7 linked regions of the Homo sapiens genome follow. The protein of the gene in region 1 purifies or fractionates together with the protein of each later gene. This does not show direct contact. Each region holds a gene or a part of one and is shown in the gene's direction. Other genes may lie near its edges. The genes, in order: RAPGEF2, WDR91, LAP3, CTTNBP2, ERI3, SEC62 and PRPSAP1.

Region 1 (4,197 bases):
TTTGAAATCAATAGTGGTTAAGAGCCCAGGTTTTGTGGTCAGGTACCTACAGATCTGTTCCTATATAACAAAACATTCAATAAATCTTAGCTATCAGGATGAGTAGATTGTCATTGTGAATATTATCTAGTCTAATTTTTTTCTCTTAACCTGAAAATCAGGATGGATTCCTATTATTCATAGAGGAGAAATTTTTCTTTAATTGAAACTCTTTTATATCTTTGATTCTTCTATTTTGTTCTCTTGATTGTATTTAGAACTATACGCTTTGTATACTTAAAAGTCTTCCATTGATTTTTATTCTGCACGCACATTGTTGATAAGCAATTCTTTGTGCACGCTGTAGAAGGAGGGAGAGGTGCTAATAGTGTAATGACTAAGAGCACGGGTTTAGGAGTCAGGCGGACTGGGGATTGAATCCCTGTTTTGCCACTTTATTAGTTTTGTGACATTGGGTAAAATACAAAACAGTGCCTGTTTCCTCATCTGTAAAATGAGCTTCATAATTTCTACTTAATGGAGTTAGTGTGAGGATTCAAGGAAATTTATGCAAAGTATTTAGAACAGTGCCCAGATAGTAGATTCACTAAGTACATGAAAGCTATTGCTGCTGCTGTTCCTGTTAGAAGAGGCTCTCATGCGCCCTCAGTCCTGTTGAGATGTGTTTTCTATGGCACAATTAACATCTATATAGACGAAGTGTAGGAACAGATGATAGGTTGTAGAGTGAGAAATTCTGGAGTATAATCATTACGGACATTACTTTTATTAGTAGGAAAATTGTAGTTATTTAGCCATGTAAATAGTCATGGGTAGATTTCAAGTTTAATATCCTTTTACAATGAATAAGGAGAAAACAGTTAATAAATATTCTTAGGTTGGACTTTTTCAAGTGCTTACAACTAATACTCAGAATTTTTATTGCAAAGGAAGGAAGAATGATTTTTAGTTCCTAACAATTGAGTTTTAAAAGTTCAAGAAAATGAAACTTTAGTTTTACTGGCCTATACAGGTTTCATATTCTAGGTCATGAGCATCAATAAAGGGATTTTAAGAAAAATAGACACCTTATAGTAATAGTTTTAGAATTTTTAAATTGGTATCCTTTGTGCGACTTTTCCAAATTTATTTTAATTCACTGTTTCTGTAAGTGAAGTCTTGAGACCCGAGAGTGATGTAGAATTGCTTCTCTGCCTGGTAAAGATAAATGCCCAGAAAGAGGGCAGATCCGGCAGGCAGAGAGGAAAAAGGGAACTTGTACCAAGCACAAACAGGTTCTAGGCATAGTGCTGTGTACTTAGGTTCTTCCTGTGCTTCAGTCTTTCCAATAAATCCAGGGGTTAGGTTTTAATCTTACTATTTTATAGTTACAGACCATTTTAAATGGACAAGCAGCCCATTTAAAGATAAAAGTACTTAGATGGACTAGCAGCTTCTCTCACCAATTATTTCACCACACAAAGATAACATCATTGTGAAATTTGGTTTAGTTAACATGCATTCCCTGGCCTGCCTCACACCGCACCTCTAACCGATACCATGCAAATGCACATCTGCTGCTACACTGTGGATGCTGTTTTAGTAATTATTTTTATATTTTTAATAAACTTTTGTGGCATGAACTAGTTTTTAATGCTGGTGCATTGTTTCTACTCTAGCACGAAAGGAGGGCAGGTATCGAGAGCCCCCGCCCACCCCTCCCGGCTACATTGGAATTCCCATTACTGACTTTCCAGAAGGGCACTCCCATCCAGCCAGGAAACCGCCGGACTACAACGTGGCCCTTCAGAGATCGCGGATGGTCGCACGATCCTCCGACACAGCTGGGCCTTCATCCGTACAGCAGCCACATGGGCATCCCACCAGCAGCAGGCCTGTGAACAAACCTCAGTGGCATAAACCGAACGAGTCTGACCCGCGCCTCGCCCCCTATCAGTCCCAAGGGTTTTCCACCGAGGAGGATGGTATATGCACATAAATATTCCTAAAACCTCCAAGTTAGATGTGTTCACTTGTGCTGCTTCCCAAGGCATTTCTGTTCTCTTAACACTGCAGTCAGCTATGTCTAACCATATACTACACAAAGTACACTACATTCAGAGTTCCAAATTTAGGGTTACAGCTGTTGACTGCTTTCTTTTGTGTGTGTGTGTGTGTTTCCTTAAATGGCTTTAAAAATGCCAAAGATTATGGAGGGAGTCACTTAAAATACAGTGTGTATATAACTGGTTTTCTTCTCCAATTCTCACTAAAATTTGATTGCTTTCTGTGTGTCTGTGTATGTGTGTTTCCCTAAATGGCTTAAAAAATCCCAAAGATTATGGAGGGAGTCACTTAAAATACAGTGTTTATATGACTTGATTTCTTTTCTAATTCTCGTTAAAATTGAAGTACTTCTGTGACCCTATTTTAAGAAAAAGAATAGGCCAGGTGCGATGGCTTACACCTGTAATCCCAGCACTTTGGGAGGCTGAGGAGGGCAGATTACTTGAGCTCAGGAGTTTGAGACCAGCCTGGCCAAAGTAGTGAAACCCTGTCTCTACTAAAAATACAAAAATTAGCCGGGTATGGTGGCAGGCACCTGTAATCCCAGCTGCTCGGGAGGCTGAGGCAGGAGAACCACTTGAGCCCGGAAGGCAGAGGTTGCAGTGAGCCAACAACATGTCACTGCACTCCAGCCTGGGTGACAGAGTGAGACTCTGTCTCAAAAAAAGGAAAAGAAAATGAAAATTTCACAAGTTTGTGCTGTTGTCAAGAATTTTAGAAGCATGTAGGATTCTCAAAGGTGGATGGTTAAAGTTTTCTGTGGAAACATTATATTTGCGCTTTTAATGAATTGGGACTCATTTGGAAATGAAAGTCTGATAAAGAAAGATACATTATCAGCCAGCCTGATGGCTCATGCCTGTAATCCCAGCACTTTGGGAGGCTGAGGTGGGAGGATTGCTTGAGGCCAGGAGTTCGAGACAAGCCTGGGCAACATAGTGAGACCTGTCTCCATAAAAATATTTTTCAAATGACCCAGGCGTGGTGGCGTGTGCCAATAGTCCTAGCTACTATGGAGGCTGAAGTGGAAGGATCACTTGAGCCCAGGAGTTCAGGGCTGTGGTGACCCATGATTGTGCCACTGCACCGTAGCCTAGGTAGCAGAGCAAGACCCGGTCTCTAAAAGAAAGAGAGAGAGAAGGGGAGGGAGAAAGGGAAGGAAGGAAGGAACCCACATTCTTTATAACTCTTTGTGCGTTCTTTCTACAAATCTATCTGACCATGCTGAATTGAGAATGAGGAAGGAGAACATGGCCTCCCATCTTCTTTAAAGTTTTCAGTTTAACATGTTTGATTACACAATCATAGAAAAAAGCAACACGTGACTGGGAGATTGGGAGGCCGAGGCAGGAGAATCGCTTGAGCCCGGGAGGCGGAGGTTGCAGTGAGCCGAGAACACTGCACTGTGGATGGCAAACCCACACCCTGTCTCAAAAAAGTTAAATTAAATTAAATAAATAGAAAAACATTACAAATGAAAATTACTTAAAATCCTGTCACTTGCAGATAGCCACTATTAAAATGTTGTTATATATTCTAGACTTTTTATGTGTATCTGATCGTATATTTTTTTTAAATGGCACATGCTATTTTACAACTTTTTAAAATGAATTTAACAACTTTCTGAACAAAAATATATAATGCATATCTTTTTAATATTGTGTGTATATATGTAAAGATATGTATTGCATACATTTTAACCTTTTTGTTGTTCGTCATTGTTTAGGAAAAAAAGACAAGGATTCTAAGTGAGCTATACTAAAAAGAATAACTATGATAGTTTTATTTAGCACATCAGTGAATATATTCTCTATAGCACAAGAAATTACTTGCTTGCTCATTGATTTCTTTTTCTTCCCTGCTGTATTTGCAGAAGATGAACAAGTTTCTGCTGTTTGAGGCACAGACTTTTCTGGAAGCAGAGCGAGCCACCTGAAAGGAGAGCACAAGAAGACGTCCTGAGCATTGGAGCCTTGGAACTCACATTCTGAGGACGGTGGACCAGTTTGCCTCCTTCCCTGCCTTAAAAGCAGCATGGGGCTTCTTCTCCCCTTCTTCCTTTCCCCTTTGCATGTGAAATACTGTGAAGAAATTGCCCTGGCACTTTTCAGACTTTGTTGCTTGAAATGCACAGTGCAGCAATCTTCGAGC
Region 2 (4,708 bases), on another chromosome or scaffold:
TGTATTTTTAGTAGAGACGGGATTTCACCGTGTTAGCCAGGATGGTCTCGATCTCCTGACCTTGTGATCCGCCTGCCTCCGCCTCCCAAAGTGCTGGGATTACAGGCGTGAGCCACCGCGCCCGGCCTATTGTCACCATTCTGCAGAAGCAAGTCTCAAAGATATTGGCTATTTTCCTACTTACAAAAATACGTGCACCTTGTAAAAACTTCAACAATAAAAAGAAAGTAAAAAACAAGAAGTCCTTCATAGTCTCACCTCTCAGATAAAACCACTCCAATTGTCACTTGGTATCTGCAGGGGGTTGGTTTTAGGACCCTCCCTAGAAGACCAAAATCCATGGATGCCCTGATGTAAAAAGGCCTAGTATTTGCATCTAACCTATACACTTCCTCCTGTATACTTTAAATAATCTCTACATTGCTTATAATACTGAATACATTGTACATGTTATGTAAATTGTTGTTATGCTATATTTAATTTGTGTTTTTAAAAATTGTATTCTTTTTTAAACTGAGACGGTGTCCTGCTCTGTCACCCAGGCTGGAGTGCAGTGGTACAATCACAGCTCACTGCAGCCTCGACCTCCTGGGCTCAAGTGATCCTCCTGCCTCAGCCTCCCAAGTAGCTGGGACCACAGGCAGCACCACCACGCCCGGCTAATTTTTTTTTTTTTTTTTTTTTGAGACAGAGTTTCGCTCTTGTTGCCCAGGCTGGTATGCAATGGCGCGATTTCGGCTCACTGCAACCTCCACCTTCTGGGTTCAAGCGATTCTCCTGCTTCAGCCTCCCGAGTAGCTGGGATTACAGGCATGCGCCACAACGCCCGGCTAATCTTGTATTTTTAGTAGAGACGGGGTTTCTCCATGTTGGTCAGGCTGGTCTCAAACTCCCGACCTCAGGTGATCCGCCCACCTCGGCCTCCCAAAGTGCTGGGATTGCAGGCGTGAGCCACTGCGCTCCGCATTTTTTTTTTTTTTTTTTTTTTGTGGAGATGTGGTTTCGTCATGTTGTCCAGGCTGGTCTCCAACTCCTGGGGCCAAGAGATCCGCCTACCCTGGCCTCCCAAAATGTTAGGATTACAAGTGTGAGCCACTGCGCCCGGCTATTTTTTATTTTTAAAACTTTGGAAAAAATATTTTCAATCCTCGTTGGTTGAATCCGTGAATGCGGAACCCGAGGATGCAGAGACCCGACTGCATAGGAACTTGGTGTATAATCTTCCTGAATTTAAAAAATGTACACACATACATACCTAATTTTTTTTTCACAAGAAACCAGGACTATAGCGTACATACACTGCTATGAAATTTGCCTATCCTAGCAGTGCATCTTGGTTATCTTGCTGTGTAGCCAATTCGTCTTACTAATGAAAGCAGAGATTTGGGGGAGTTAGCGCTCTCTGAGGACACGCGTGTTGTGGCTTCACGCAGGTCACTCTGCTCTTAGGGCTCCAGCTTCCTCCGTGTAGGAGGAGGGCAGGGGACCGGGAGCTCTGCGATGTAACGCCAACCAACAGGGCGCCGCACCCCCTGCCCGCCTCGGGACTACCTGGGATGTTCTTAAGATCCAGTCTTGTTTGACGTGGGTGGCAGCCGCCACTTTCAGTAATTCAGACAAAGCCGCCGCCGGCGCCGCCAGGACCTCCCCTCGCCACTCCTCGGGAGGGGTAAGGGTGACTCGAGCGGCCAGGCGGGCTGGGGCTGGCTCAGGGGCGGGGCCTCGGGCGGGGAGCCGGCCGAGGGGCGGGGCCTCAGGCTGGTCGCCCAGTGCGTGCGGGCTGGTAGGCCTGTCGCGGCGTGACGTGCTCGGCGCCCGCGTCCGGCCCCGCCCCATTTCTCCCAGGCCCCGCCCCTCCGTCCCTCACCGCACCACCCCTAAAGACGCTAGCGCTGCGATGGCGGAGGCCGTGGAGCGCACTGACGAGCTGGTCCGGGAGTACCTGCTCTTCCGCGGGTTCACGCACACACTGCGGCAGCTGGACGCCGAGATCAAGGCGGACAAGGAGAAGGGGTTCCGGGTGAGAGGCCGGCGGGAGCGGCGCGGGCAGAGGCGGCCCGAGGGAGCCGGGGAGCGGGCTTCCCCCCAGCACTGCCTCCGGGGCGAGAGCGGCGCTGTCACTCGCGCCGGGGCGCCGGAGACCTCAGCGCGTCCGACCCCAGCTTGACGGATGAGGAACTGAGACCCTCAGACGGACAGGACCTGCCTGAAGCCGCCCCCCGAGTCAGGAGCATCGCCGAGGCTGGAGCCCCGATGCCCCGGCTCCTGGTCTAGGGTTCTGTCTCCACTCCAGCCTCCTTGGCCAGGATGGCGATGAGGTTTTAGGAGCCGAGGTTAGGTAGATGGTTGCGTTTTGGCAACAGATATTCGTGTTGGCTTCCAGTGGCAGTGGAAGCAAAGAAGTCTGCAGTCCAAAACGTTAGCTGCGTTCAAGTATCTGCGGTGTTTGTTTAAAATGGCCTCGTCAGGGACTCATCGGCAATTTTGCTTCTGCAGTTGTGGAAGACCTCATGGCACATTAGAGAAACCCAAACTTCCCCTGCTCTAAAATGATTTTCCATTGCGAGGTTCTTGGAATGTATATGTGTGTGATTTGTATGTTTGTGTGTACTGACTTCAATGAGAGGCAGTGAGCTAACAGCAAGAGCACTGGAGGGGAGTTAGGAGATCTGGTTTCCTGCCTGGCCAAAGTTAGTGGCTACTTAGTGGCAAAAGCAAATCATTTCACCCCTCTGGGCTTCAGTGGCCTGATCTATAAACTAGGGGCATTGGATTGGTATTGATATCCAAACCCTTTTCCAGATTCTGTACTCTGCTGTAATTGCTCCTCACAAGAAGGTGACTTCCTTGGCTGACACTCTGAGCAGCTACCACGGCTTCGTGGAACTTTGATGACTTGAAGGAGTCAGTCCATGCACCTCCTCATGATCCTTGGGATCTGGGAATTGTGGAGATTGTCTCATAGCTCTTCTTCACCCCACCCCCTTTTTTAAAAATGTGAGGTAACTGAAACTACAGTTAAGCAACACTGCCATTTTTTTTTCTTTTTTGACAGAAAGTCTCACTCTGTCGCTTAGGCTGGAGTGCAGTGGCACGATCTCAGCTCACTGCAACCTCTGCCTTCTGGGTTCAAGCGATTCTCCTGCCTCAGCCTCCCGAGTAGCTGGGATTACAGGCGCGTGCCACCACGTCCAGCTAATTTTTGTATTTTTAGTAGAGTCGGGGTTTCACCATGTTGGCAAGGCTGGTCTCGAACTCCTGACCTCAGGTGATCCATCCACCTCAGCCTCCCAAAATGCTGGGATTACAGGCGTGAGCCACGGTGCCTGGCCTGATGACACTGCCAAATTGATCAAGTAAGTCAGAGGCAGATCCAAGATCTGGAGCCAGATCTCTTAGGTTCTGGGCCAGAGCCCTTTTACACCTGAAATTTCCGTGCTTGCTAGAGGGTCAAACCACTTCTCTAACATCAGAAAATTACTGAAAAACCGTTGCATTAGTATGTTTTGAAAATTTTATAGATTGCTAACTTACAAATTTTTTTTTACACCCAGAAGCCATGACAAGAGGAAAAAGCTTTATTCCATGGAGGGGAGAATTCCCTTCTGTCCCTTACCACCTTCTCCATCCATGTTTCTCGCCAGGTGGATAAGATTGTGGACCAGCTGCAGCAGTTAATGCAGGTGTATGACTTGGCTGCCCTTCGGGATTATTGGAGCTACTTGGAGCGTCGGCTCTTCAGCCGCTTGGAGGATATATACAGACCCACAATCCACAAGCTGAAAACCAGCCTGTTTCGATTTTATCTTGTCTACACAATCCAGGTGCCTGTTGATTCAGGGGTTCTGCTTCCCTTGGTGGAAGGAGCTCTTTGATCCCAAAATAGATTTTCTTCCAGTTCCTAGGGAGGAATCTGTATGTGACTATGGGAAAGAGTGCAGCAGTTACAGTGCAATTATTTTTGACTGTTTTTCTTCTTTTTTTTCCTTGTCGTCATCTGTAGATCATCTGACTTGTCTTCCCCATTCCTATTTCCTTTTTTATGTTAAGCATGTAAGCTTAAAACAAAGGTGGTATTTTAAAGAATATAAGTAGCTGGGTTAAAGTTTGAGTAATAAAGATGATAGCTGACCTGGAGGAATGAGTCACTTAGTTATTTGAACATCAGCTAGGGATTAATTTTTAGGATGGGATTTATCATTAGAACTTCAGCTTAAACCAGCTTTGAAATGACAAGTTCCTTGAGAAAAGAGTGATGATTTCCTTTATATTATGGAATTTTATTTTGCCACTTACCTGGCAGGCTGATAGTCAAAGGTTGTCTGCTGTGCAATGATGAAGAGTCTTACCTCTGGATTTCTGTCTCTCCTCCCTCCTTGCTACCTCCTTGTGTCTTGGCAGACAAACAGAAATGACAAGGCTCAGGAGTTCTTTGCAAAGCAGGCCACGGAACTCCAGAACCAGGCTGAGTGGAAGGATTGGTTTGTCCTGCCCTTCCTGCCATCCCCGGACACCAACCCCACCTTTGCTACCTACTTTTCTCGACAGTGGGCTGACACCTTCATTGTGTCCCTGCACAACTTCCTGAGCGTCCTGTTTCAGTGCATGCATATCCTTTCAGTTGCCTGGGGCTGAAGGCCCAGCCTGAGGCACCCAGACCTCAGGATCAGTAGCCCGCTGGTCTCCATACAGGCATTTCTTCTACAAA
Region 3 (4,197 bases), about 140 Mb from region 1:
TGAGCCCAGGAGTTTGAGGCTGCATACAGTGAGCTCTGATCATACCACTACACTGCAGCCTGGGTGAGTGAGACCTTTCTCAAAAAAAAAAAAAAAAAAAAAAGGTTTAGATGTCTGGAAGGAAATTTCAAAAATAGGTTAACAGTTATCCCTAAAATGAAATTATTGGTCAAATTCAGTAGGTTCCTTTTTTGCATTTCCTAATAATTTAAGTGAATTCTGGCCTGAAAAACATAAAAATATGTTAAGTATGTACAGGAAAGATTTCCTAAGCTTATCTATTTTTGAAAATGAGGAAGCCATTAAATAGGGTACATGCTAAGGTTTCCATCTGGGTGGCGGAGGAGCCCATTTTGCCTGGAGAGACTGCACGTGACCTGAGGGCTTGTGTCTTACAGGTGCCATGGATGTAGCTTTGGGATCAGGTGCCACTGGGGTCTTTACCAATTCATCCTGGCTCTGGAACAAACTCTTCGAGGTAGGAATAATATTTGTATATCTAAATTGTAGAGATGGTGAATAAATTATTCTAGCCTTAGAAGGATAGACTTCTTCAACCCTGTGTTAAAGTGATTTTTATGCCGCAGGTTTGCCTTTGAATTGAAAATGAACCACAGCAATAGATTGAGTTCAGTGGCATTGGGTTTTCCACAAATGCTCCTAAAGGAGGGGATGATGCCCCCTGCTCCCCTCCGGTAGCCTCAGCGTCCTGTGAAAATATCTCACGAACACTGTGGTCATAGTTTTAGAATCCCTGAGGTAGAAATGGTTTTGAAGATGGCTTTGTGGAGCAGCGTTTGTGACTGCGTGTCGTGAGTCATATAAGGGAGTTCACCCTGCATCGATGAGGATGTCTTCAGACCGCTGTGCTCTGTGCCTCCCTCCATGCCCTTCACAGCCAGCCTCTTCCCAGCAGTCACCCTCACTTCCACACACACACACACACACACACACACACACCCTCACTTACTGCCATTGGTTTTCGAATGTCCACACCACTGTTAGCCTAACTCAGCCTGTCTTGAGGCAGCAGGTGACTCTGTGGCCTCCTGACACCTGGTTCAGCTTCTGTGATAATCCTTTCTTGGGCTGCCTCCTGTGATTCTCCTGCTCCTGTCTCCTGACGTGTTTGTTCCCTTTGGCCGCCCTTTGGCTGGTGTTCAATTCAAGGCCATAGGCTCTTCCTACTCTACACATTCCTCACATGGAAGCTCCAGCCAACACATGTTGCCTGATGGCTCCCATCTCTCTCCCGAGTCCCAGCCTCTGTGTACCCATGTGGCTGCTAGACAGCTCCAGCTGGCTGCTTACTCATTCATTCAACTAGTAATTAATGGGAGCTTACTCTGTGCCAGTGGGAGGGGAGACAAACATAAAATGTCCCCAAATATAATCCTGAGGGTGGTTTAAGGTCTAAACTTATTTTCACTCTAAACTGCTTCTCCTTCATATATGTCATCATTCACGAAGCCCAATTTTCCCAGTTCTGCAATACTCAGCCCCATCATCTTCTTCCAGGCCGGGCCAGGAACCTCTCCTCTGGCCTCCCACATAACCGTTATCCCTCTCTTTCATGGCACCCACAATATTGTTGTTTTGACTTTTAAAAAACATTTAAGCTTTAAAAAAAAAATCTCAGTTATATGTGCATAAATCAACAATCAGCAGCCCACAGTCTGTTTTCCAGAAGGCAGCCACTTTCAACCCTTGGCTGATTCATCTGGTATTTACTTATGTCTTAAAATAACAGCTTATATTGCTGCTTCTTGATTTTTCACTTTTAGGTCTTTGATTTTTTACCAGTGAGTTAAATAATCTGTTTATGTATCTGTTTCTCCTACTAGCCTGTAGGCCCTTGGGTGGCTCAGATGGTAGTATTTCAGCACACCTGGTGGTGCTCAGTAGTTCAGTAAACGATGAATGAGTGAGTGGGTAAGTGATGAATGAATGAATGTGGTCATCCTGTCTCAGGATTTCAGTGATACAGGTCCAGTCGTGTGTTTCTGTCACATAGAAGTGACCCGCCACATAAGAACTCTTTCACCCTCATCAACCCACAAAGCCTGTAATTGTAGTTTGATGATTTTAGCAAAATGCCCTACAGATTTGTGAAATTGCTTCACAGCATTCCCGGTTTCTTTTTATTTTTTATTTATTTATTTATTTTTGAGACGGAGCCTCGCTCTGTCGCCAGGCTGGAGTGCCGTGGCACTCCGTTGGCTCCCTGCAACCTCCCCGTCCTGGGTTCAAGCAATTCTCCTGCCTCAGCCTCCGGAGTAGCTGGGACTACAGGCGCGCACCACCACGCCCAGCTAATTTTTTGCATTTTTAGTAGAGACAGCGTTTCACCATGTTGGCCAGGATGGTCTCGATTTCTTGACCTCGTGATCCACCCGCCTCGGCCTCCCAAAGTGCTGGGATTATAGGCGTGAGCCACTGTCCCCAGCCTCCTGGTTTCTTTTATAGTTCTAAAATAAATCTTTTAATGAGTGGACACAATTCTGAAACCTATTTTCTAGTTTCATGTTTTAGAGTAACAGGTTAGAACAACTCTTCCTTCATGCATTGAGCATGTTAATGCCATGAATTTCCCACAACCTGCCTCATCCACTCTTCCACCTGTCATACCTGTTCTCTAGGCCAGCATTGAAACAGGGGACCGTGTCTGGAGGATGCCTCTCTTCGAACATTATACAAGACAGGTTGTAGATTGCCAGCTTGCTGATGTTAACAACATTGGAAAATACAGGTATGTAAGCTAAGCTAAATGTACATTTATACAATCATCCTTGATTGCCAAAATAGCTATTTTCAATTTTATCCCCTTATATAAAAGGTTTAACTATTTAATTTCCTTTTGGTGTAGTGCTTGTAAGATTTTTAATGTCTTGAATTTTCAAGTATTTCTTCAACCAGATTTCAAAATTTGCATATTTCTAATCTAATGGTAATTTTCAATAAATGGTAAGGGAAAGAGATGGAAAATATGGGAATTCATTACCATAGCAAAAAGGAATATAGAATTTATCCTTTACTGCTTAAAGCAATATCTGAAAATAAATATTCTGAAACTGATATGTGGGTTAGCATCTTAATAGGTCTTACAAGCTTGACTCTTGTTCTTTGGTTATAGAATGTACTTAGCAAAAATGTGGGATCTCAGTGCACATTTACATGGGGTTGTAAAGTGCTTTTTGTCTTTCTCTTCAGATCTGCAGGAGCATGTACAGCTGCAGCATTCCTGAAAGAATTCGTAACTCATCCTAAGTGGGCACATTTAGACATAGCAGGCGTGATGACCAACAAAGATGAAGTTCCCTATCTACGGAAAGGCATGACTGGGAGGCCCACAAGGACTCTCATTGAGTTCTTACTTCGTTTCAGTCAAGACAATGCTTAGTTCAGATACTCAAAAATGTCTTCACTCTGTCTTAAATTGGACAGTTGAACTTAAAAGGTTTTTGAATAAATGGATGAAAATCTTTTAACGGAGACAAAGGATGGTATTTAAAAATGTAGAACACAATGAAATTTGTATGCCTTGATTTTTTTTTCATTTCACACAAAGATTTATAAAGGTAAAGTTAATATCTTACTTGATAAGGATTTTTAAGATACTCTATAAATGATTAAAATTTTTAGAACTTCCTAATCACTTTTCAGAGTATATGTTTTTCATTGAGAAGCAAAATTGTAACTCAGATTTGTGATGCTAGGAACATGAGCAAACTGAAAATTACTATGCACTTGTCAGAAACAATAAATGCAACTTGTTGTGCTCTCTGGTGTGGCTCTGATATTTACTTACATATTGCTACAAACCCAGTAACTTATTACTAGAATATCATTCGTCTCTGTAGCCATGTTGTATGAACTATGTAATTAAATTGGGGCACAGTGGCTTATGTATTTTCTCAATGTTCCTCATCACTTAAAGGTACTCAGGGATTGAGCTCATCAGTTTGGGTAATAGTGGCTTGGCCCATGATTTCCAAAATGAATCAGTCAGAATAATAGTAACCATTGTTGACTTACCATCTGCCAGGCACTGTCCTCAGTGTTTTCAGGTGTTAAATTATTGAGTCCTACCCAATGAGACAGGTACTGTTATTACCCTCATATGACGGATGAGGGAAACGAGGCACAAGAGAAGTTTAGTAACATGCCACTGATGTCACAGAGCAAGTAACTGGTAGC
Region 4 (4,197 bases), on another chromosome or scaffold:
TTATTCAATAGGATCATATTAATAGTCTTTGCCGTGAACCGTGCCGGGAAACCTGGGCTATTTTCAGTGCCTTAGCCAAATGTGATGACTTTTATAGGCCATATTGCTGTTTCCACTCTGAAAATAACTCCTAATGGATAAGGCAGTATGGAAAACGAAATCTTCATGCTTTTTATTGTCACCAAAGAATTTTGGAATGAAAGGAAAATGGAGATCTTTTTAGAGCTATATTTGGGAAGCCAACCAACATTCTTGTCATTCTGAGCTTTTCTGGAGCAGCTAATAGACAAGAAGTAGGTATAAAATTTGTTGTCATGGTGGCAGTGACAAAGAAAAACTTGGACAATGATTTAAAATGCACGACAGTGATGTTAAACAAATTAACAGCTGAACTTGAAATTTTTGTTTTCCAGGTGACAGTATTGAATGTAAATGCACTGAAAAGAACTTTCGTAGCCAATTGCGCTAAGCGTTTTTTTAAACTAAATTATAGTTACGTGGCAGCTATAGAATGTTGAAAGTGTTGCAGCTTAATTTTTAAATAGGAAATAACGTAGATTTAACACACATTACTGAACACTTACTGAGATACAGGCATCATGAGTATGATCTTTGCTACCCTAAAGTAATACATTCCAGTGATAGAAACTGACATACGCCAAGGAATCAAATTGGGGATGATGGTGTCATGAGAGGCAAAAATGATTTTGCATTAGAAGTTTGGAGAGGAACAGTCATAGAGAGGGTCCCTAGTGGATGGATCTAGAAACTTCCATAGAAGGATGACATTTGAAGTAGTCCTTGAGACTGAAGGAGGATTTGGACCGGCACTGCAAGAAGGAGTGTGCAAATGTGGTCATATCCTAGGGAGCCATATGCGAAGGGTTTTCAGTGATGAGCATAGAGGTTCCCATTCTGGTCTCAGCTATATGGTTCAGAAAAATAGCTTGGAAGTTGAGGAAATTGACTGGAATATTTTTCCAAAGATGAGAATATAACTGTTTTCAGTGTCCTGCTTTTCACTCTTTTTTTTTTCTTCTTAAATAATAGGTTGTAGATTTCTGTTTGCCCCAGTTTTTGAACTTTATTATTATTGTCGTTGCTGTCATTGTTATTGTATTTCTCACAGCAGCAATTTTGTTTAGAGAACATTTGTCCTCTCAGTGATTGAATCCATGCCTGGGCTAGATTACCAGTTGGTTCTATCCTTGTGTGTTTCTCATAACTTTATGAGGTGAGAAAATGTTTCACAGCCTTGGTACTTAGACATTTACAAATATCTGCTGTTGATCATGTGGACAGGAAGGCTGTGGCTGGGAGAAAGCAGCCTCCTCCTCCGAGGAGAGTTGTGTGAAGTTTGTAAAAGAAAGCAAAGGTGGTTAGCACAATGCCAGGCACATGGTAAGTGTTCCACAAATATTTACTGAATGAAGAAAATGAAAAGAAGCTCACCAAGAAGCTGTGTCATAAAATTTAATGTTGATTGGCTAATTAGAAAACTCACTTTGTGTGTTACCAGCTATCTTATAGTGAAATTATTGGCCTGTGACTTGTAATAATTAATGTTATAGATATTATAGATCTTGATCCAAAAAGATAACCCTAATTCTTTTAAAATTTTCATCTTAATACTGCCGCTTTCCAAGCTGCTTTTCTCAATGACTTCTTAGATTCTTTGCAGGGGTTTTTTAAAAGTTTAATTTCCAACACTATTAGTTTTCTCTTTAGATTCTCGCTTTTCAAAATGATGATTGAGGCTGCACCTCTACCATCCTGCATCCTTCCAATAATAAGAGTCAAGGCCACATCACCCATTGGGGTGTGGAGGAGAGGATGATTGATAGGGGGTTAAGAGAAATGTGGGGAAGTTTGGAAACAGGAAAGGGGAATAAAAGGAAAGAATGGGCAGGAAAAAAGGAGTTTAGGCAAGGCTTTAGAATAGTCTGCAATTTCACAGAAATGTGGGACTGGAATTTCAACTTTGAATGTGCCTAGGAAGGATGGAGCAGTATCCCCCAACTTCATTTACTTTGCTACCCAGGCCTGTCTGAGTATTGCTTTAGAAGGATACTTTATTTGAACATACTCGATTACATTATTCTCTGTTGGTGCTCCTTTGCAAAGCTTATGTAACATGGAAAAAGATTTGTCTTTTCTGTTGGTAGTTAGGTAAGGAATCAGAGGACAGGTACGAGAGACGATGATGATGACATCGATATTGAAAGATTTTTAAAATTTTAATGTTTTAAATAACTTACACAAATAATGAGATCATATTATTAATGCCGTGTACAGCATGATGCCTTCCATATAGAAATCCTGATTTTAGAGTAGGGGGAGATACTCTCTTTAAATAAATTGTTAGTAACCAACTAATACATTGGGGATCAGTTTAAAAGGTTATAGTAAATGTAGAGTAGTCGAGGTAACATTGCTGTGTAGAGTGAGTACTTGTTTGCAGATGATTTGGTTTTGACATTTTTATATTTCATTGAAAAGACAAGATGGTTCCAAAGGCCTGCGTCTTCATCTGGCCCAGCCTTTTCATTTGAAAATCAGCGTGCAGATATTTGCCACCTACAGATAATCAAGACTATTCTTTAATGCATTGTAAGCTTCTTAAAGGATGGTTATTACATTTGAATGTCTGCTTGCCTGTGGAGCTGATCCATGTCCCATGTCGGGCTGATGTCACATCGAAAAACTGAGTTAGGGTGAAAATAGATGTTTGTTTTATTTGAGATGTAGTCCTTTTTTTCCCTAAGGAGGAAATAGAGACTGCGGGGAGATCTGAAAGGAGGAAAAGGGAGGTAGCTGAGCTTAATTATCAGAGGCTGTCACCCCTGAGCCACTTTTCTGCCATTCTTTCCAGCTTTCTCAGCTAAAATTAGTTACATCCATTACCAGGTTTCCTTCCTGACATTGTTTCCTTGTCAGTATTACCTCCTTTCAATACACTGAGTTTCTTGTCTTGCATCAAAGACCCCAGACAGTGTGGTTGATTTGAGGTGCATGACCTTGGAGAGCTGACACCAAATAGATCTCATGTTCTCGTACTATATGTTGTTTTAAAGTGGAACATCAAGCAGCTTCCCTAGTTTAGGTTACTCTAAATGATTTTTGAAACACTGAGAGAATCATCTAATACAGTTACTTAGTTCCCCCTAGAGTGGGCTGAAACATTGTATCTTAGTAAGATGGATGTACCTGAGACATCCTTTGCACACTTTCTGTTTTCATACTGTGTGCAGTAGACATTTTATACCCAAAGTGTATATGGTGGGGTGGGGGCAGGGGGAGCATGTTGGATAAAATAAGTGAAGAAGTAATGTTCTTACTGTCCTGACACATCTAGTAGGAGTGAGAAAATAGAGTTAATAGAGATAATAAGTTTACTATGAGGAAATGCACAAGGCCGGACATGATTAACTGCCAAGTGAAGTAATAGAGCAGATTTTAAGACTGAATGGCGAGAACAAGAGATTTCTGGAGTCTGGAAAGACATTCAAAAGTGGGTTTGAGCTATGTGCTGAAGAAAGATAGTACCCAGATGAATCAGAGGAGAATGGAGGATTAGGAAGAGCAGCATCAGAGGTATGCAACCCCATCACAAAAATTCTTTCCTCCTTGTAGAGAGAGAAATCGGGAAGATAATCTCAAGGCAAGAAGTAACTTCAGAGATTTGAAAATACTTTGAGATCTTGAGAAGTATGTACTTTTCTTCATGAAAACCCTTACAATTAGCTGAATTCTTAATATAGTGCATGTTCTTATGTACCTAGAGAGGTGAATTTAATATTTTGCATGTCAGTGATACAGCCTTTGCATTGTGATGGTGAACTTTCAAGTTGATTTCATTGCTTTTCCTTTTTGATAGCCCTTATTCATCCCCAAAGCATAAATCTTGCTTACATAGAAAGTTCTAAATGCATTATTATTGGCATGCACTATTAAACTGGGAGGAAAATACATTTCTCTAACTTCTGAGCAAAGAGGCAAAATCAGTTTTCCTCAAGTACCTCACAAACGCTTTTAGGCTCAGGAAATGACCTAAATGAATTTCCTCAGTCCAGTAATCCAGTTACCCTGATGGTACATGAAATCAGGACATTTAGGGGATGGGGGAGATTTAAGAGATCACTTACTCCAGCATCCTTATTTTTACTGATGGAAAACCTGAGATTCAAACAGATGAAA
Region 5 (3,541 bases), on another chromosome or scaffold:
CCCATTAAGGACTGCTCGTTCTATTTCCTAAAAATTCTCTTACCTCCATCCACTTCCCCCACATCATCAATAGATCTTCTCCTCCATTTCCACTGCCACTGGCCTGTTCTGGGCCATTATTTCTGGTCTGGACCATAGTACAATCTGCTAATTGATCTGTCTGCCTTCAGGGTTAATCCTTCCAATCCTGTCCTCACATCTAGGATCATAATTCTGAAACAAGATCTGGTACTGTCATTCCCCTCCTTAAACATGTCAATGTCCATCATTCTCAGAATATTAACATCTTAAGCTCCTTAGTTTAGCATTTAGGTTCTTCAGGATTCCCTTTAGTCAGTCACTGACCACCAGCTTCATCTCGTTGCCACTCCCTTCTGATTCTTCATCCCCCCACCCATCTGATAAACTTATTTGGACACTCCACATTTCACCTCCATAAATGTGCCTGTACTATTTATTGAACACCTTCCTCACCCCAGCCCTAACAAGGTGGGCTAGCTCCCTCCCCCATCCCCTAAGACCTCTGCTTAACTTTGGAATATTTAATCCTCAAACAGAACTAGATAACTTTTCCATGCGTCCTTTTCTCATAGCACTGCACACCTGACAGGGCTGTCTTTGAGTTCCTTGAAGGCAGGGAGCTACAGAGTCTTGCACATCCCTCAGAAGCCATATGGTACAAGATCACTGAGCATACAGAAGGTGTCAGCGCATGTTTGCTGAATGAATGAGTATATGAATGAATGGACTTCTAACTTCTTGGGTCCCCTTCCTCCTGAGGGTCTCCCTAGCCCAGGCCCTGCTTCCTGTCCACTGCCACTCAGTTCCCAGGTAAGTACCGCTAATGGAGAATATCAGCCTTAGGTTGTTTGCCCTTTGTGAGCTCTTTCTGGGTGTCCTAAGTGATCTGAGCAACCCTTCTGTGTGGAGATTGTCAGGCAGACATTTGACTGTCCTTGGGCCCAGCCAACAAGCTTGTCTTTCCTTGTAAGGTGCTAGCCCCACTAATCTTCTCTCAGGGATTTATGCAGCTGCACTCCTCACATTATGGTCTTGGCAATATAAAAATATTTCCAACACTGAGAATATTAATGCCCCAAAAAAGAAGAGGAGAGGGTCATCTTGTCACAAATTGATGATCCTGCAGAAACATAAAAACAGGTTAGCCTGACCAGGTATGGTGGCTCATGCCTGTAATCCCAGCCCTTTGGGAGGCCGAGGTACAAGAATTGGAGGCAGAGGTTGCAGTGAGCTGAGGTCACGCCACTGCACTCCAGCCTGGGCAACAGAGCAAGACAAAATGAAACAAAACCAAAGGTTAGCCTTCTAGAATTTGAAGGTGAGGTAGAGGCCTCTTGGAGGCCTCTATTGTGGGTGCAAGGCTGTGCTCCCTGCCACCTCACTCCCACCCTACAGCAGCTTCATGCTGGCCTCCTTAGCTCAATGAGAGGTGCTGGAAGGCAAGCCTGCTAACCCAGGTGGCCCCCAGAGCTTCAAGCAGAAAACTTTCCAAGAGACTGTGTTGCCACCAGACACCCTGCTGCTCTCTCTCTCTGAATTTTTGGCCTATTAAAAGCCCCAGATCTGTCTCTAGTGCTTCTTCTGCCAAGCTTCCTCACTTTCTAGCAGGGCCATAGACTTTAAAAAACAAAATATATATATATTTGTCAAGGCTTCAAGGGCTGGAAAAAGAGCCTGGAGCTAGAAGCCCATGACTGCCATTCCACTGACTTGTTAGGTGAACTGGAGCAAATTTCTTCCTTTCCCTGGTCTCTCTTTATTGTAGTGGGCCAGTTGCAACAAGTTAGACCCCAGAAATACCCAGTAAACAGGATCTGAAGTCAGAATTTGGAGTGAATGCCAATTGGTTTCACTAAGTCTGCTGGCCCCTATCAGTCATCTGTGCTATCAATTGTATACACTTTCTCACCACTAGGTCCTCCAGAAAACTAGCTTCCTTGCCTTTTCTTCAGAAAGAGGAGGCATTCCAAGCATAAAGAACAGCATGTGCAAAGATGTGGGTGCAACACCTTGTTTGGTCCTCACAATAACAGCAAGGCCATTATCACCCTAGTGGAGGAACCTAAGTATTAGAGACGCTAAGCCCTTGCTGTGTGGTATGCAGCCAGTGGGTGAAATTAAGATTGGAAACATGTCTTTCTGGCTCCAAAACCCACTTTGTCATTTTCAGAAAACAGTGAGTGGGTCCTTGAGATTGGAGTCCAGGGATTGAGGGTTGAGCATGGCAGAGACCAGAAATAGCAGGGATCAATTTTTGCGGAGCCTTTAAGACATATTACTGGTGTAGACTTTAAACTGAGGGCAAGGAGAGCCACTGAAGGGCTTTAAGGAAGAAGAACATGATCAGATTTATGTAAGAAAGATCAGTTTGGCTGTAAGAGAATGAATTTGAGGGAGAAAGAGGACAGCTGTTGTAATCCAAGATGATTAGGCAGAGAAGAAGAGAAAATCTGCGTAAGTTCATACTTGATTAGATTTGGAGAGTGAGGGAGAGGGCAAAGTGGCAACATGACTCAGATTTCTTTGGGCATTTTGGGTGGATTATGGTGCCATTCACTGGGATGGAGAACATAGCAGGGTGAGGGGTAAGCAGCAGCTTGGAGAGAAAATTAGCTCGTGATTGGACGTTTAGGGTTTATCTAGAAAGAGATGTTCAGGAATATGTGGTGTAGAGCCTATGAGCTGTCCAGGCTGGAGAGGTGATCTTTAGCGGGTAGCTGAAACTCACGATTTAGATGAAGCCATCCAGTGTGTAGAGTGGGGAGAGGTCAAGGACAGAGACTGGGACGTGGGGACCCTCTCCCAGCACAGGGCCAGGCACAGGTGGGAGAACAGTGCTTGCCCACTGGATGGCTGGTGGCCTGGGGGTTGGGGCTGGGACATTCACTTGGGCCAGGGGAAGCAAATTGAACGATTTGTCCAGCAATGAGGGAGGAGCCAGATGAAGTCAATAGAAAACTAATTTTCTTTTCTGCTGGAAGAAATGAGGTGTGTGGCCGCTGGGTAATTGCAGATAACGAGGGGACTTATTCTTAATATGCACAGCGGCCACGGTCCCTAGGGTACCGGAGACAGGAAGGATTGGAGGTTCCCTGATAGGGCCAGACTTATTTGGGAAGAAAATCACCCTATCATAGTCTCTCTGTTGGCACTACCACAGCCCATGGACCCCATCCTAACCCTTCCCCCTCTTAGGCCCCTTCCGGTCCCATTCCCCTTCCTGTCAACTGCCTAGCACAGCCCCTCCCTCCTCCACCCACTACCCCCAAAGCATAGGCACACACACTAAGAGAGACAAATGATGGGGCCTCAGCTGAGCGGGGTGCGTGTCCGGCCCATAAACCATGGGGATGGGTCACGTCTGGAGTTGCCATGGTCGCCACTACCCACCCATCTGTCTTTCCACTGTTCTGCCTCAGACCAGCCCGTATGGCTTCCTGAGTCCCTGGGGGAAGGTGTCACCTCTCTGTGCCCACATCCACTGCAGGTGCGTCCATGCTGATCTCTGCGACACAGGACC
Region 6 (4,197 bases), on another chromosome or scaffold:
CTTCTGTCCAACTTGTGTTTTCATAGGAGGAAACTCCAGGAACTCCTAAAAAGAAGGAAACTAAGAAAAAATTCAAACTTGAGCCACATGATGATCAGGTTTTTCTGGATGGAAATGAGGTGAGAGTAAGCCTATAACTAGAAGTTCAGTTTTCTATAGGAGTTTTTAGAAAGATGTTTGATGCCTTCACTAATAAAAGGAAAAATTTTGAGAAATCTAATTATGCTCTTAAATGTATAAAAGCTACTCCATTTTTAAAAATCAATAATTTCTCTTATTTAGATTTTTAAAAGTCAGATTTGACTGTGAGTGATAGGAAACCTGAAATAAAAGCATCTTAATACAAAATAGATGCTTATTTCTTTTTTATCAGTGAAATCTGTAGGTAAGCTGTACAGATACGTCAGCTCCATGGTGGATCCCAGCTCTTCTTTTCTCCTCTGTCTGAGGCTTCTAGCTAAGGTTACCTTATGGTCCAGAATGACTGCCAATCTTATATCTGCATCGAAAAGAGGAAAGGAGAGTGAAGAATATGTCTCCTCTTTAAGGAGACCAGTTTAAGGACACTGTCCAGAAAGCTGGTAATTTCATTTCTGCTTGAATTCCATTGGCCAGAACATAGTCACATGGTCATGCATATGAGAAGTAAAATCTTGGAAATGCACTTTTTATACAGGATGATTATTTGCCCAGCCGAAATGTAGGGTTTCCATTATTATCAAAGAAAAAAGAGCAGAATAGGAGATAGCTACAAGTCTCTATCTCTTACAGAATGTAAGTCAGACACATCACTTGAGGGGCTTAAAATTTTTAACATTTCTTGATGCTTTATGCTTATCATTTGTAATGGAAGATTTGTATGGTGGTAGCCTTCCATAAAGACTGCTTAATTCAGTCACTTCACCAGTACGTAAACATGAGTTATATACTGGGCATTGAACTGTTGTGAATTTCAGGATATATCCTTTCCTGTTATACCTATACAATAGTAACATCTATAAAGTCATGGCTCCTAGGGTTGTGTGTTTGAAATTCTTACTTGCATGAGACTATCTAGAGTGGGATTGTGGGGGAGGATTATATATCTATAATAAAGTGTCCTCAGGTGACTGATGTGAACCCCTTGTTGAGAACCACTGTAATAGAAATTTTTATTTTTATAGGCGTTGGGAATAGCTTGATAAGTAGGATAAAATCTCTTAATGGTCTAGCAAAGATACAGGCACTTAAACATGTTAATATAGTACAGTGTGGTAAGCATTAATGGTGTGAAAGCACCAGGTAGGAATAGTTAATTTAGTCAGGAAGGATAAGAAGGGTCTAAAGGACATTTGAGCTTAGACTTGAAGATGACTGGCAGATTGCCAGGCGTGCCAGGAAGGAGGTTAGGTCTGTTAGGGAAGGAAACAGCCTGAGCAAACGCATGGGTGCTTGGTATCCTGAGAAGCCTAGATTTTATTCTGTAGAAAGCAGCATGCACTCCATAACTTTTAAAGTTGTGAAATATCTTTTTTAAAAAAACATGTTTTTTTAGAATGGAAACTGGCAGAAGTAATATCTGTGAATCTGATTCCCAAGGAAATGGGCAGAGTAAAATAAGAGGTTAAAGTGGAACCTCTGGTGTTAAAAATTGAAGAACCACGTTGGAAAGACAATAAAGAGTTCTGGTCAATATAGAAATAAGAGGGAAGAGTACTGTTATTTATAGAAACTAAGAAATAAAACTGAGTTTTATGGATGAATGATCAAACAGAGTTCTGATCTGAATGAAGTAAATTTCTGTTGTGTAAAATAAGAGCCTGATAAAAGTAAATTAAGTTTTGAAGTAGTGGTTCCCAGCTTATGGGCCCTCCATGGAGGAGTAGGCAATGAAATTAATACAGTCATAGAGACTATGTTCACCAAGCATGATCTTTAATAATTGATCTTTGTGTCTTCTCAGGAGAGAAAAGTGTGGAGTTGAGTGATACTAGATCTGTAATAGGGCCTGGCTGGAATCTGTCTTAACTGCGCTTTTATCCCAGACTGGTTCATCATTACATTAGGGACAAAAAGGTTGGCAGTTGCTGGTGTTTTGGTTGAATAAATAATGATGTGCACACATGGAACAATTTTTTTTTCCCCCAAGACAGAGTCTTGCTCTGTCGCCCATGCTGGAGTGCAGTGGTGTGATCTCAGCTAACTGCAACCTCTGCCTCCTGGGTTCAAGCAATTCTCCTGCCTCAGCCTCCCGAGTAGCTGGGATTACAAGCGTCCACCACCACACCTGGCTAATTTTTGTATTTTTAGTAGAGGCAGGGTTTCACCATGTTGGCCAGGCTTGTCTTGAACTCCTGACCTCAAGTGATCTGCCCGCCTTGGCCTCCAAAGTGCTGGGATTATAGGCGTGAGCCACCAAGCCCAGTCAAACAAATTTTTAAGTGTATGTAAGAACATACAAATTTACTTAAGTGCTTTATAGAATTTATAGTTATCCTATAATCATTTTCTAGCGCCAGAAGAACCACTACTACTGAAGGAAAGATCTTTGGAATTTATTTACCTTAGAAATTACTTCTCGTATGTTAAGAGGTTGATGACTGCTTTAAGGGACCTAAAATATAGAATTAAGCATTACTTTCTAATGTGACATTAGAACTTTTAAGCACCGAGGTTTCTTGATTCTTCTAGGTGTATGTATGGATCTATGACCCAGTTCACTTTAAAACATTTGTCATGGGATTAATTCTTGGTAAGTAGTGAGATGTTAATAGCTATAAAGTGCAATCTAAAATTTAGAAAACAATATGCAGATACTGTAAAAGAAAATGTTCCTAAATTTAACATAAAATAGTTGTCATTTTAAAAATACTTTAAATAAAGTCAGAAGATAAATAATACACTAAGGAAAATATTTGAAACATATTAAAGATCTTTTAAGAGATTAACAAACTGATAGAAAAATGGTCAAGGTAGTTAACAGATAAAGAAATACAATGACCAATCATCATGAGTGATACTTAATCACACTCATATACAAATTAAAGCTGTAGTGATTAAGAGTCTTGCAAACCTTAACATTAAAGGTCTTAGAAAAAAATCAGCTCTCTCTAACAGTTGATAGGTATGTCTATTGTTTTAATTTTTGTAAAGGGCAGTTTGTCAGTATCTTTGAAATTTTATGTGTCTGCAGTGACCCAGCAATTCTAGGCTGTTCCCATACAGTTGCACAAAGTGTGTGCATTGACACATTATCTGTTTTTTTCCAAATCCCTTAGACTATACTTGAGTATAATCTAGCAAATATCTTTCAAATTCAAAATGCTTATACCATTTGATCTAATAAATTCCACTTTAAGGAATTTACCCTATGCCATAATCACAGTTGCACAAACGTACATGTGCAAGGATATTATACCTAGAATAGATAAAAAAAGAAAAGAAAGTTACAGACGAGTAAGAATAGTATAAGCTCATTTACTTATTTAGAAAAAAAGTCCCTGTAGCTAGTTAATTATATATAGGCAGTCTCTGAGAATACAGGTAAGCTTAATAGTACTTAACCTCTGGGAAGTGGAATAAGAATTAGATGAAGACTTAATTTTCTCTATACCTTTTGATTTGCTTGTTTGTGACAGGGTCTCATTCCTGTCACCCAGGCTGGAATGCAATGGCACAATCATGGCTCACTGCAGCCCGACTTGCTGGGGTCAGGTGATCTCCCACATCAGCCTACTGAGTAGCTGGAACTATAGGCACACTCCACTACACCCCGCTAATTTTTGTATTTTTTTGTAGAGATGGGGTTTCGCCATGTTGCCCAGGCTGGTCTCAAACTCCTGGGCACTTGCCTCGTTGTCCCAAAGTGCTGGGGGTTTGATTTGTTTTTGATTTGCTTTTTAACGTGTGTATTCCAGGAGGTTTTATGGGGAAAGAATGATTTAACAAACAGAAAAAAAAAAAATAGGTAGCAGTTAAAATAAGCTTGGTCAATATGGTATGATAGGATCCCATTCAAAATAACTCTTTAAGGCTGGGCTCAGTGGCTCACACTTGTAATCCTAACACTTTAGGAGGCCAAGGCAGGGAGATGGCTTGAATCCAAGGGTTCGAAACCAGCCTAGGCAACATGGCGAAACCTCGTTTCTACAAAAAATTAGCCGGGTGTGGTGGTTCACACCTGTAGTCCCAACTACTTAGAAGGCTGAGGTGGGAGGA
Region 7 (4,055 bases), on another chromosome or scaffold:
TTGTGGTCCTTCACGACATGCTGAGTCACAATCTACTGCTCCCTCAAGCCCAATGTCACCACAAGCAGAGTCTCTAAAGGACATTCTCAGAAGATGGTACTGTCAATGTGAGAGGCACCTCTCCTCCCCTCGAGTTCTGGTGCAGCTGATAACTAGAGATCTCAAATGCTTCCCTGGGCTTTACTTTCTACTTCAACAAGTACTGATTGCGGGCCTCTGGAGCCCACACACTGCCCTATACACTGGGTAACACGGAGCACTCAGGAATACACGATCTTGGCGGGGCGTGATGGCTGAGGCCTGTAATGTCGGCATTTTGAATGACTGAGGTAGGAGGATGGCTTGAGCCCGGGAGGTAGAGGCTGCAGTGAGCCGTGATCGCGCCACTGCACTCCAGCCTGGGCGGCAGAGGGAGACCCTATTTCAAAAAATAAATAAATAATAATAAAATTAAAAAAAAAAAAAAGGAACTCACGATGTGGCCGTAAAATGGGTTACATCCTAGTTAGGAAAATAGATGTTTGCAAAGGTACATAAATATGCAAGCATCAAAACAATAACAACAACAACAAAAATTTAAAAAATGCAAGCATCTACGTGTGGCACAGTCCCGCGGGCCGGGCGGCTTACTGTGGTTGAGGTCACCAGAAAGACTGTGGAACAGACGCATCGCGAGTGGGTCTCGGAGGGGTGGCGCATATGGAAAGAGGAGAAGGAGGGCTTTTTTGATTGAAAGCGAATACCGGCAAGAGGGCCTTTGGCACGTTCAGGGAACCTTGCCTTACACGCAGACACAGGGTTGGGGATCTGTTCGGAAACGCCTGAAAGATCAGGCTCAGGAGAAGACCACTTTTTGGCCGCTTCAGTACTGCGGTCAACCAGCTGGAAAGAACCCCCGCCCTCTACTTTTCAAATTAATCTCCGGCCGGCGCACGCGCCTCGTGGGGCGGGCGCTGTGCTACCATAGACATGCAGAGCTAGATCGTATACCTCCTCGGAGGCGGACATGTTGGGTCCTGGCCAAAAAGTTGGAAACACCTGGGGCCACTACCGAGGTAGGCTGCTCCTCCCAAGAAAGTGAGACCGAAAGAGCTCCCGTGGAAGCGGTCAAAGCAGGGGCGGGGCGAACCTGTGACATGCCCCTCGGAAGAACAGGCTTTTAGAGAGTCGCCAGGCTCCCTGCCCTCATCCGAGATGGCGGCCTGAGGGCGCTCTAGCCGACGCTCTTCGGATGCCCGGAGGGGGCGGTGGCCTTGCCTCTGGCTCTGAGGCGGCGGCGCCGGGCGCTGCGAAGGCTCGGCCGCTGTAGTCAGTGGTGTGGGGTGCGCAAGGGCACGGACCTCGGAGCTCTCCCCGCTTGCGCCGAGTTTCTCAGCGCCTTCCCCACCCAAACCGGGGTCTCGCAGTCGGAAGCACTCAGAGTGCAGCCCCGCGCGGGGCCGGTCGTAACCGCGCCGCGGGCCGGACGATGCCCAAGAAGCTGCTGCTGTTGCCCCCGCCCTCCGCGTCCTCGGCTTTCCGCGTCCCGCGCGCCCGCCCCGTTCCCCCGCCGGCCATGAACGCCGCTCGCACCGGCTACCGAGTCTTCTCGGCCAACTCCACGGCCGCCTGCACGGAGCTGGCCAAGCGCATCACAGAGTAAGGGGGCGGTGGGAGGGCCGGGCCGGGGGCGGCGGCGCCTAGCTCTCCTTCGCGCCCGGAGGGACCCGCTCCCCTCCACCCGCCCCACCTCCTGCACCTGGGGCGGGAGGCGCGGGCCTTCCCAGCCGGACAAAGCTTGGAGGTGACGGATACCGCCCCCCGCTCCCCGGTTTTGCAGCTGGGAGGCTTGGGGCGGACTCTCGGTGACCTCAGCCCCCCGCCCCGTGACTGGGTCCGCGGCCTGCCTGCCTTTCGTCTCCGCAGTCCCACACCCCGGGGCGGGCCGAGCTTTCTGGAGCCCCGGAGTGCGTGTCTTGGGGAAAGGGGCTCAGGGCTTGGCTTCCTTTCCCACGGCTGGAGTTGACCTGGGAATCTGACCGCCGCCACTCTCAAGTCTCACTGCAGTGAGACCCGCGGGCGTGGTTGTGAGTTGGGGGATCCGACGCGGCAGGTGCGGTCGCAGAGCAAAGGTGTGGGGACTGGCAGTGCGAAGAAGGCAATTCCAGGGAGGCAGATGGGCCGGAGCTGGTGGTAGAAATGACAGGCCTGACCCTGCTTTGTAAATCAGCTTGGGATAAGATCAGTCATTTGTGTCTTTAACCCAACCAAGCCCCTGGTCTTAAGTCGCCTTTGGGGTCTGACAGCTCTGAGATGCCCTCCCAGCCTTGCCACTTACTAGCTCTGTGTCAGTGGGCAAGAGACTTGATTTCCCTGAACCTCATCTGTGAAATGGGCATGGTTGAGAATATTGTATGATCGGGATAATGTAGAAGTAGTATCTGGTTCTAGCAGAGTAGGGGCTCATAGTGGCCCTCTGAATAGTTGTTTACTAAGTGGCCTCTTTTCTTTTTCTTTTTCTTTTCTTTTTTTTTTTTTTTTTTTTTTTGAGACGGAGTCTCGCTCTGTCACCCAGGCTGGAGTGCAGTGGCGAGATCTCGGCTCACTGCAAGCTCCGCCTCCCGGGTTCACGCCATTGTCCTGCCCCAGCCTCCCAAGTAGCTGGGACTACAGGCACCCGCCACCACACCCGGCTCATTTTTTGTATTTTTAGTAGAGACTGGGTTTCACCGTGTTAGCCAGGATGGTTTCGATCTTCTGACCTCGTGATCCGCCCGCCTCGGCCTCCCAAAGTGCTGGGATTACAGGCTTCAGCCACCGCGCCCGGTGAAATGGCCTCTTTTCTAGTTGGCTCTTTTGGAGAATCCCAGAGCTCTGATATAAAGGAGGAGCCTTATATGCCCTTTCTACATACACTTGTTAGAAATCTAAGACATAAAATGAATAGCTCGTCTTTTAATATTTAAAGCCATTTTCACATTTTAAACAGTTTTCATAGAGTTACTTCGTTACTTTTTTAGGGTTGACAAATGATTGCAGGGATATATCTTAAACTTCTGGGGGGAAATGTAGAAGAAAGGGAAAACTTTAGTCATTTTTTTTTCAGCTCTGCTTGTTTTTTTTTTTAATAGTTGGAGTTTTGGAGAGTGGAAGAATGTTAAAAAAACAAATCAATCCTTTTGCAGTCTACTACCTAGTTTCTATTTCTAACCCCTGATTGTTTGTCTTTCTTTCTGAGGCCAACGAAAACACTGACTTTAAACGAAGCTTCTGTGTGTATCTAGTGGTTCAGATTTACCCTACCTGACCTTGAGGGAGAGCAGAGGGGAGCAGGGCACATTTTAAAAGTCAGTGAGGGTTTTTTTTGTTTGTTTGTTTTAGATTCTTTCCTGGCAAATTCCCGAAAGATTTTGAATTACTATAAATGATACATATTCATAAATACTTCCCTTACCTGTTTTACTTGTCGCTCAGTAAGATTTTGTTTTATCTTATCTGTTTTATTTATTTTGAGACAGTCTTGTGTCACCCAGGCTGGAGTGCAGTGGTGCCATCTCGGCTTACTGCAACCTCCACGTCCCAAGTTCAAGCGATTCTCCTGCCTCAGCCTCGAAAGTAGCTGGGATCACAGATGCCCGACACCACACCTGGCTAGTTTTTTGTTTTTTGTTTTTTGTTTTGAGACGGAGTCTCGCTGTCGCCCAGGCTGGAGTGCAGTGGCGCGATCTCGGCTCACTGCAGGCTACGCCCCCAGGGTTCACGCCATTCTCCTGCCTCAGCCTTCCGAGTAGCTGGGACTACAGGCCCCCGCCACCTCGCACAGCTAATTTTTTGTATTTTTAGTAGAGACGGGTTTCACTGTGTTAGCCAGGTTGGTCTCAATCTCCTGACCTCGTGATCCACTCGCCTCGGCCTCCCAAAGTGCTGGGATTACAGGCGTGAGCCACCGCGCCCGGCCACACCTGGCTAGTTTTTGTATTTTTAGTAGAGATGGGTTTCACCACGTTGGCCAGGCTGGTCTCAAACTCCTGACCTCAGACGATCTGGGATTATAGGCGTGAGCTACTGCGCCCGGC

The links.
Region 2: the proteins of RAPGEF2 (region 1) and WDR91 purify together in Homo sapiens (affinity purification with mass spectrometry, with the first as the bait; one large-scale study listed by BioGRID). This does not show direct contact.
Region 3: the proteins of RAPGEF2 (region 1) and LAP3 purify together in Homo sapiens (affinity purification with mass spectrometry, with the first as the bait; one large-scale study listed by BioGRID). This does not show direct contact.
Region 4: the proteins of RAPGEF2 (region 1) and CTTNBP2 purify together in Homo sapiens (affinity purification with mass spectrometry, with the first as the bait; one large-scale study listed by BioGRID). This does not show direct contact.
Region 5: the proteins of RAPGEF2 (region 1) and ERI3 purify together in Homo sapiens (affinity purification with mass spectrometry; one large-scale study listed by BioGRID and IntAct). This does not show direct contact.
Region 6: the proteins of RAPGEF2 (region 1) and SEC62 purify together in Homo sapiens (affinity purification with mass spectrometry; one large-scale study listed by BioGRID and IntAct). This does not show direct contact.
Region 7: the proteins of RAPGEF2 (region 1) and PRPSAP1 purify together in Homo sapiens (affinity purification with mass spectrometry; one large-scale study listed by BioGRID and IntAct). This does not show direct contact.

What each region holds. Positions count from the first base shown.
Region 1 is NC_000004.12:159,354,195-159,358,391, forward strand, and holds part of RAPGEF2 (rap guanine nucleotide exchange factor 2), read left to right. Parts: intron 1-1,658; coding exon 1,659-1,964; intron 1,965-3,919; coding exon 3,920-3,945; 3' UTR 3,946-4,197. UniProt on the Homo sapiens protein: Functions as a guanine nucleotide exchange factor (GEF), which activates Rap and Ras family of small GTPases by exchanging bound GDP for free GTP in a cAMP-dependent manner.
Region 2 is NC_000007.14:135,208,692-135,213,399, reverse strand, and holds the start of WDR91 (WD repeat-containing protein 91), read left to right. Parts: upstream 1-1,873; 5' UTR 1,874-1,897; coding exon 1,898-2,020; intron 2,021-3,644; coding exon 3,645-3,824; intron 3,825-4,401; coding exon 4,402-4,609; intron 4,610-4,708.
Region 3 is NC_000004.12:17,604,190-17,608,386, forward strand, and holds the end of LAP3 (cytosol aminopeptidase), read left to right. Parts: intron 1-398; coding exon 399-478; intron 479-2,639; coding exon 2,640-2,749; intron 2,750-3,210; coding exon 3,211-3,400; 3' UTR 3,401-3,781; downstream 3,782-4,197. UniProt on the Homo sapiens protein: Cytosolic metallopeptidase that catalyzes the removal of unsubstituted N-terminal hydrophobic amino acids from various peptides.
Region 4 is NC_000007.14:117,866,635-117,870,831, reverse strand, and holds part of CTTNBP2 (cortactin-binding protein 2), read left to right. Parts: intron 1-4,197. UniProt on the Homo sapiens protein: Regulates the dendritic spine distribution of CTTN/cortactin in hippocampal neurons, and thus controls dendritic spinogenesis and dendritic spine maintenance.
Region 5 is NC_000001.11:44,223,056-44,226,596, reverse strand, and holds part of ERI3 (ERI1 exoribonuclease 3), read left to right. Parts: intron 1-593; exon of another isoform or gene 594-831; intron 832-3,541.
Region 6 is NC_000003.12:169,983,135-169,987,331, forward strand, and holds part of SEC62 (translocation protein SEC62), read left to right. Parts: intron 1-26; coding exon 27-119; intron 120-2,670; coding exon 2,671-2,731; intron 2,732-4,197. UniProt on the Homo sapiens protein: Mediates post-translational transport of precursor polypeptides across endoplasmic reticulum (ER). Proposed to act as a targeting receptor for small presecretory proteins containing short and apolar signal peptides.
Region 7 is NC_000017.11:76,351,117-76,355,171, reverse strand, and holds the start of PRPSAP1 (phosphoribosyl pyrophosphate synthase-associated protein 1), read left to right. Parts: upstream 1-1,255; 5' UTR 1,256-1,468; coding exon 1,469-1,638; intron 1,639-4,055. UniProt on the Homo sapiens protein: Seems to play a negative regulatory role in 5-phosphoribose 1-diphosphate synthesis.